Linked DNA regions of Homo sapiens. The protein of the gene in region 1 interacts with the protein of each later gene in a pairwise test. Each region holds a gene or a part of one and is shown on either strand. Other genes may lie near its edges.

What was found.
Region 2: the proteins of TRIM23 (region 1) and PITX1 interact in binary tests that used the Homo sapiens proteins (3 or more experiments, as listed by UniProt).

What each region holds. Positions count from the first base shown.
Region 1 is NC_000005.10:65,593,334-65,596,833, reverse strand, and holds part of TRIM23 (E3 ubiquitin-protein ligase TRIM23), read left to right. Parts: intron 1-302; coding exon 303-413; intron 414-2,188; coding exon 2,189-2,313; intron 2,314-3,500.
Region 2 is NC_000005.10:135,027,234-135,031,228, reverse strand, and holds the end of PITX1 (pituitary homeobox 1), read left to right. Parts: intron 1-1,907; coding exon 1,908-2,450; 3' UTR 2,451-3,495; downstream 3,496-3,995. UniProt on the Homo sapiens protein: Sequence-specific transcription factor that binds gene promoters and activates their transcription. May play a role in the development of anterior structures, and in particular, the brain and facies and in specifying the identity or structure of hindlimb.

The DNA.
Region 1 (3,500 bases):
GGAATAGAGGATTGGTGATCCTGGCTGAGGGTGTGGGGTGGGGGGTAGTTGTGGAACAGAGCTGGAAGGTACATGGATCCCAAGGTCCTAAGGACCTTGGTGGAGGTTTAGAGGGCTAGGAGCTGTTACAGGTATACATTCACCACGTAGGAGTAGGAATGGGGTTGATTAGGCTTCAGTAGATATTGCTGCATGTAGATAATTTGATAAGTCACAGTTATAAACTGGGGGTTGTCTGTGTTTGATATGTCATTCATTGTAAATACAAATATAGTATAAAAGTAACTTTTTTTTTAAAACAGGTTTTAACGTGGAAACTGTAGAATATAAAAATCTAAAATTCACTATTTGGGATGTAGGTGGAAAACACAAATTAAGACCATTGTGGAAACATTATTACCTCAATACTCAAGGTGAGAGTTAAAAATGACATTTAATTTTTCACATTTTTAGGATGACAGTTTTCAGTGTACTGATTTAACTAGCAAAGCTGATACTTATGATTAAGTCGTTGACTGTATACTTAAGTACCTGTGGCCAGTTTCTTAACTTGTAAAAAATGAAAGTAGAAAGATTAGGATATATACTTTTAGTTTATTCCTGATATACCATTATTACAGAATAAAAACCATACGTAGCTTAGATATGTAGTCAGTTAAGAGTACTCTTGCTTCTCTTAACAGAGAGTGTATATTACCAGTATTATATGGGTGTGACTGCTGGTAGCGTAGTGGTATAGAGTTGAATTTATGTTGTATGATTCTGCTGAATTCAGTTAAACTCAACATTTATCCCATTATAATCTCACTATAGCCCCACTCCCACATTTCTTTCACAAATAGTTATTACCTGCAGAAGAACTTACAGTAGCTTGCTTTTGACCAAACCGTATTATATCATATCTATACTCTACATAGGTTTTAGTCACATTTGGGTCTTACTCTACACTTCTGCCTCATAGACCCCAACATAATGCTTACGCTCATGCCGCTTATTCTGTATGTTATTCTGCTTTCCACCAAGATGAGAGACTGAATAATTATTTTTACTTTGGGATTTTTGATATTATTATGAGCCATAATTAATAGAAAAAATGTATTTTTTTTTTGAGACAGAATCTTGCTTTGTTGCCCAGGCAGGAGTACAGTGGCATGATTGCATTTCATGGTCACCTCTGTCTCCTGGGCTCAAGCAATCTTCCCACCTTAACTTCCCAAGTAGTTAGGACTAGGTATATGCCACCACATTCAGCTAATTTTTTTTTTTTTTTTTTTTTGAGATCGAGTCTTGCTCTGTCGCCCAGGATGGAGTGCAGTGGTGCGATCTCGGCTCACTGCAAGCTCCGCCTCCCAGGTTCACGCCATTCTCCTGCCTCAGCCTCCTGAGTAGCTGGGACTACAGGTGCCCACCACCATGCCTGGCTAATTTTTTTGTATTTTTAGTAGAGACGGGGTTTCACCATGTTAGCCAGGATGGTCTCCATCTCCTGACCTCGTGATCCGCCCGTCTTGGCCTCCCAAAGTGCTGGGATTAGAGGCACGAGCCACCGCGCCCGGCCACATTCAGCTAATTTTTAATTTTTTTTTAATAGAGATAAGGTCTCACTATATTGCCCAGGGGTCTCGAACTCCTGGGCTCAAGTGATCCTCTCACCTCAGCCTCCCAAAGTGCTGGGATTATAGGTGTGAGCCACTGTGCCCTACAAAAATGAAATTTTGAATATGAGGAATGGTTGAAAGTCTGGAGATAGTTAACTTAGACATAATACTTTGGAGAAATAAAAATGGTGATGGTTTTTATCTTTTAGTCTTTTATTCAAAGACTAAATATTAGAAAAGTAGTATTCGAAGAACAAGTAGCATCCATAGGTAGAGGATCATGAGGCATATTTTGAAATTCGTTATGTAAAAAGTTATTTGATATACAGACCAATTTGCATTTGATAGAGCAAGTGTTGTAAATCCTTTCCTAGATGGGGAAACTAAACCTGAGAAGTTATGTAAACTACTTGAAATCATACTGTTAATTATTTGTAGGTGCCCCTGCCATACTAGGCACCCTCTGTGTGAAAATAATGATGGTAGACAAACTCTAACCATAACATAATAATGATATCATTAAATATTTGGTTCATTTACTGAACTTTAGCAAGTGACTATTTTTGTTTTTTTTATTTTTTTTTGGGTAGCTGTTGTGTTTGTTGTAGATAGCAGTCATAGAGACAGAATTAGTGAAGCACACAGCGAACTTGCAAAGTTGTTAACGGAAAAAGAACTCCGAGATGCTCTGCTCCTGATTTTTGCTAACAAACAGGTAATGCATTTTTATATTGGAATATTTATTTTAGTAGTTTTGTGCATGTCAAAAGGCAACTGGAAATATTTCAGAAGACAATCAGTTCAATAGATATTTATAGTTTCTTCTGTGTATTTTGAGTACAATCTATGTGAAAATGCTGTGCTGGGTACCTGGGAGTATACAAAATAGAAATAAGGTAGTTAATGCTCACCAGAAACTCCTGTGTATGCATATGAACACATAAGAGATCTGAATACGAAGAAGACTGATAAGTAACTTAAGTAACACAGTGTTACGGGAATTAGGAAAGTAGTTCTAAATGTGGCATGTTGTAAGATTGTAAAATGTAGAATTTGAGTTGAAATTATGCATGAGGCTGAGTCAGTATGTGAAAGGAAGAACATTATAGACAGAGAAGATAATAGCATGAATGTTTTTAGTTTAGGGAACATCAAGCAGATCTATATGTCAGGTCTCAGTAGAGGATGAAGAGAATTTAGAATAACAGACAAGGCCATGCTGTAAAGGTCTGACAGTGCTAGACTGAGAAATTTAGGTTTTATTCTATGAGCAAGGAGGAGTCATCAAAATGTTGGATTAGTGGGTAATAAGATCATATCAGTGTTTCAATACTATAATTCTAGGGGTAGAATGAATCAGGGCAAAGGACTGGAGACAGGGAGATGCAGTAAATTGCTTAAATAATTCAAGTGAGCATTAACAAGAGCCTGAATTAGAGGAATAGAAAGGCGGAGGCAGATGGAAAAGACTTTGAGGCAGAACTGGTGACTGAATGGGGAGGATGAAGGACTGGGAGTAGCTGAAGATTCCTAGACCTTGAGCCTTTCTAGGAGGATGAGATGCTTTTAAGTAGAGGCAGAAGGAGAGTAGAAGTGGAGCAGAGGAGATGTCATGGGAGGGGAAGAGTAGGATGAAGAATAAAGAATTTTCCCCTTAATAAAAAAGGCAAACTATTAAGAACTGGTATATTTAAGACATGCAAATAAGTCAGTGAAATACCATTTTCTGCTCATCAGATAGTTAAAGATGAAAGTGTTTTATAATCCTCAGACTTATATACAACTGTTACTATTATTATTTTGAGACTGAGTCTTGCTCTGTCACCAGGCTGGAGTGCAGTGGCACAACCTCTGCTCACTGCAACCTCCCCCTCCTAGGTTCAAGCGATTCTTCTGCCTCAG
Region 2 (3,995 bases), about 69 Mb from region 1:
GGCCGCCTCTGCTGCAGCCCTCCAAAGCTTAGACCCACAAGCAGAACTTCACTCTCCCACCATTCAGACCTGCTCCCTCCCTCCACCGGAGATCCCCACCTTAGGCCCTGGCCCACTAGCGTCTGCCAGGCCTCCAGGCGCCTCGGACCTTCAACCCCTTTGACCCTCATCCTACCTGATCCTCGGACTAAGGCAACCCCAGCCCAAAGACCTGTGCCCCCAGGGGACTCCCCCATGCCCTATGGGGCCCAGGACCCACTCAGATGTTAGCAGGATACCCTGGGCCAGAGACTGGGCAGTGGATTCCCTGCCGCTGGGGACCTCGGGAGCTGTTGGCCTTATCCCGAAAACGAAAGGGAAAGGCAGGTCCTGTCTGGCTGCCTCGGAGAAGCCTGAAAGGTGCCTGGGTTTGGGGCTCTCAAAACTTCCTGGAGCAGTGGTCCCATCTCATAAGCAGATTCTCTAAAAGCTCAAGATATTCTCCACCCTCCCCAGCCATCAGTAGGACCCTTTGCCTTCTGCCCTTTCCGGAAGGTCTCCCGTCAGGTGAGGTGGGGGGTGGCTCCGGGAGCCAAATGTCCTTCCCAGTCCCTTTTAGGATATGCCATCTCAGACCCAAGACCAGCCTGCATTCTCCCTCTTCTCACCCGTTTGGTTTCCAGTAAAAGCAAGGCTTTCCTGCCAGGGTAGCAAGAGAATCATTTCTTCCCTGGGGGCGTAAATATTTAATCAGATATTGGGAGCACCTCCCAAGTCGACCAAAATCCCAGCTGGCCCACAGACTCCTTACCATAACCCCAGCCCTCACCCCTCCCTAGGCAGGCTGGCCAGCCCAGTGGGACTTGGAATGAAGACACAGCACTCAGTAATCCTGAACTCACTAATCCTGCCCAGGTTTATGGTGGTAGGGGTGGGTGGGGGTGGAATCAGGTAGTGTCAGTGCTGGGGACTAGGGAAAGCTGAGAAGCAGGGATCTGGCAAACTAGCTCAGGAAACTCCACTCAGAACTGGAGGAAAATCCGAGTGGGCAGAGGGCATGCGGTAGGCAGATAGGTAAGGATGGGGGAGGACTAGGAGGTTCTTACCAAATTTGGGGGGAGAAAAGGAAGGGCAGGAAGATTAGAAGAATCTAGTAAGAATAGAAAAAATTTAAATATTTGTGGAGAAACATATTTGGCATATATTTAGGCGGCAGGAAAGAAATTAAATAGGAAGCAAAAAGATCAGGTATTTGAGAAAAAGAATCAACTGTTTAAGGGGAACAGTGCAGGTCAGATATTTGGAAAGGATTCAAAAGCCTAATATTTGAGGACGATTCAAAAGGATCAAAAATGGGGGATAAACAAGAAAACAGACTGAGGGAGAAGAAAGAGGTTCAGACAGTGGGGTGGACTGAACGAAAATAAACATTTGGAGCCAAAAAGAAAACATCAAATATTGCCGATAAAGATGATAACAAACTATTTGAGCGATGAAATAGATCGAAGAATTGGGGGAGTCGGAAAGTCCTATGTCTCAGGGAGGAAAAATACCTTTTGTATTTGAGGGAGAATAAAAAGACTGAAATATTTAGTAGATAGAGCGAACCTGTTTGGGGGAGAAGGCAGAGGTGAACTGGTTGAGAGAGGAAGAAAGAAAACGAATATCTGTTAAACGAGAATCCGTATTCGGAGAAGAAAACGGATATAATTTCGGGAGAGGATAAAGATCGGAAAAAGAAATTAGTATTTTCTGGGGACAGGAAAGGAACCATTGTGGAGGGAATGCAGGAGCGGAAATATCGGTCGAAGGAGAGAAACGACGTTCGGAGGGCAGCGGGCCGACGGAAGGCTCCAGGCGGTGGGGAAGGGGGTGGGGTCCCTCCCGGCCCGCAGCGGCCCTGACCCTTCTCCCGTCCCCTCCCCCAGGTCTGGTTCAAGAACCGGCGAGCCAAGTGGCGTAAGCGCGAGCGTAACCAGCAGCTGGACCTGTGCAAGGGTGGCTACGTGCCGCAGTTCAGCGGCCTAGTGCAGCCCTACGAGGACGTGTACGCCGCCGGCTACTCCTACAACAACTGGGCCGCCAAGAGCCTGGCGCCAGCGCCGCTCTCCACCAAGAGCTTCACCTTCTTCAACTCCATGAGCCCGCTGTCGTCGCAGTCCATGTTCTCAGCACCCAGCTCCATCTCCTCCATGACCATGCCGTCCAGCATGGGCCCAGGCGCCGTGCCTGGCATGCCCAACTCGGGCCTCAACAACATCAACAACCTCACCGGCTCCTCGCTCAACTCGGCCATGTCGCCGGGCGCTTGCCCGTACGGCACTCCCGCCTCGCCCTACAGCGTCTACCGGGACACGTGCAACTCGAGCCTAGCCAGCCTGCGGCTCAAGTCCAAACAGCACTCGTCGTTTGGCTACGGCGGCCTGCAGGGCCCGGCCTCGGGCCTCAACGCGTGCCAGTACAACAGCTGACCGCCCCGCCGCACCACGCGGGCCGGCGGCCGGAGCGGGGAAGGGCGCGGGCGCGGGCGCGGAGGACGCACGCGGGGCCCCGGCTCGCAAGCCCCAGCTCACCGCGCCGCGGACCTCACACCTGCGCAGCCCCCTCCTCCCACTTCCCACTCCGGGTTGGTTTTGTGTTTGCTTTTCCGGACCCCACTCTGCCCTCCAAAAAGACAAAAAAAAAAAAAAAAAAAAAAAAGCAAAAAGACGTCGGAGAAAAGTGCCGCGAAAAAATGGATGAGTTGCAATTTCTCTCGGGATGGCGCGGGTGGTGTGTGTGTTCCCACGGGCCCCGGAGGCCCACTCCGCGGAGGGCACGCGGCGCGGTAGGCGAGCGCCGAGGCCCAGCGGCCGGGGGAGGACGACCTCGTATCCCGCGTCCCCGCCGCGCTGGATCCGGACTGAGTGGCCGGGCCTGCGGACTGGATGTGCGGGGCCTGGACTTGCCTAGGATTTCCCGACCCCGTACAAACCAAGTTGCCCTCTCCGAGCTAGGCCCGGCCGAGAGCGCCTTAGCTCGAGTCGGATCCGTGTTGGGGCGGGCGTTGGGTTTGGGGGGACGGTGCCCCCAGCCCAGGATCGGGCACTCAGTGGAGCCGCACACGGCCCCGGCGCGCCTGGTAGAGCCTCGCTGGCCCCGCGCCCCGGAGCCCTATATTAAGGCCACGGAGCGACAGCGGGCAGTGCGGGCCTGGCGGGAGGTGGGGGAGGTCCATCTCAGAACACCCCAGCCTTGAGCTTAGCTGCAGGCCCAGGCCCTCTGCTCTGCTCCCGGGCTAGGAGGTGGCCCTCTGTCTGGGCGAACAGCCCCCTCCTCACCGCCCGCCGTGCAAGAGTCGAGCCGGCAGAGCAAGGGGCGCGGCCCCAGGGCCCTGCGCCCACTTTGCACACCCGCTCTCCGGCCCGCGCCCCTGTTTACAGCGTCCCTGTGTATGTTGGACTGACTGTAATAAATCTGTCTATATCGACTTGTCCATGTACGTCTATTAAAACCATAGTCCGAGCGTGCTAAGCACTGCTGAGCCCCGACTGCTTCATTGGGCTGAGGAGGGAGGCGGATAGAAAGGGAACTGTGGGTAGAAAGGGAACCGGGCCCCTTGGGTAGGAGCAGAGCGCCGAGGCAGCCCCCGCCGAGGTCTGCCTACCCCGCTTCCCCACCACCATTCTTGACCTGCTCAGCCTGGCTCCCATGAGGGCACCGTCCTGCGTTGCGAGCCTGTCCGGTGCGCACCCGCTAAGCTGTGCCTCTCGGCGTTGTCCGCGGGACGCCTTAGCGAGAACCCCCTCCCTCCGCGGCTGCGGGACTCTACGGGTTTCTTCCCAGGCCGGGTCTGCGGTGACCCTCGAGGCCCCAGGGTGCTATGGGGCCCTTGCCTGCCAGGAGCGTTCGGGCAGGGGCTGCTGAGAGCCTCTTTATGCCTGGGGTTGCCTTTTCTTCTGTGGGCCCAGCAACAGCCCCTCTTCTCTCCTCGGAGCCAGGGCCAGGCTATTCCAGGAGGACTGAGGGGGCTGGAT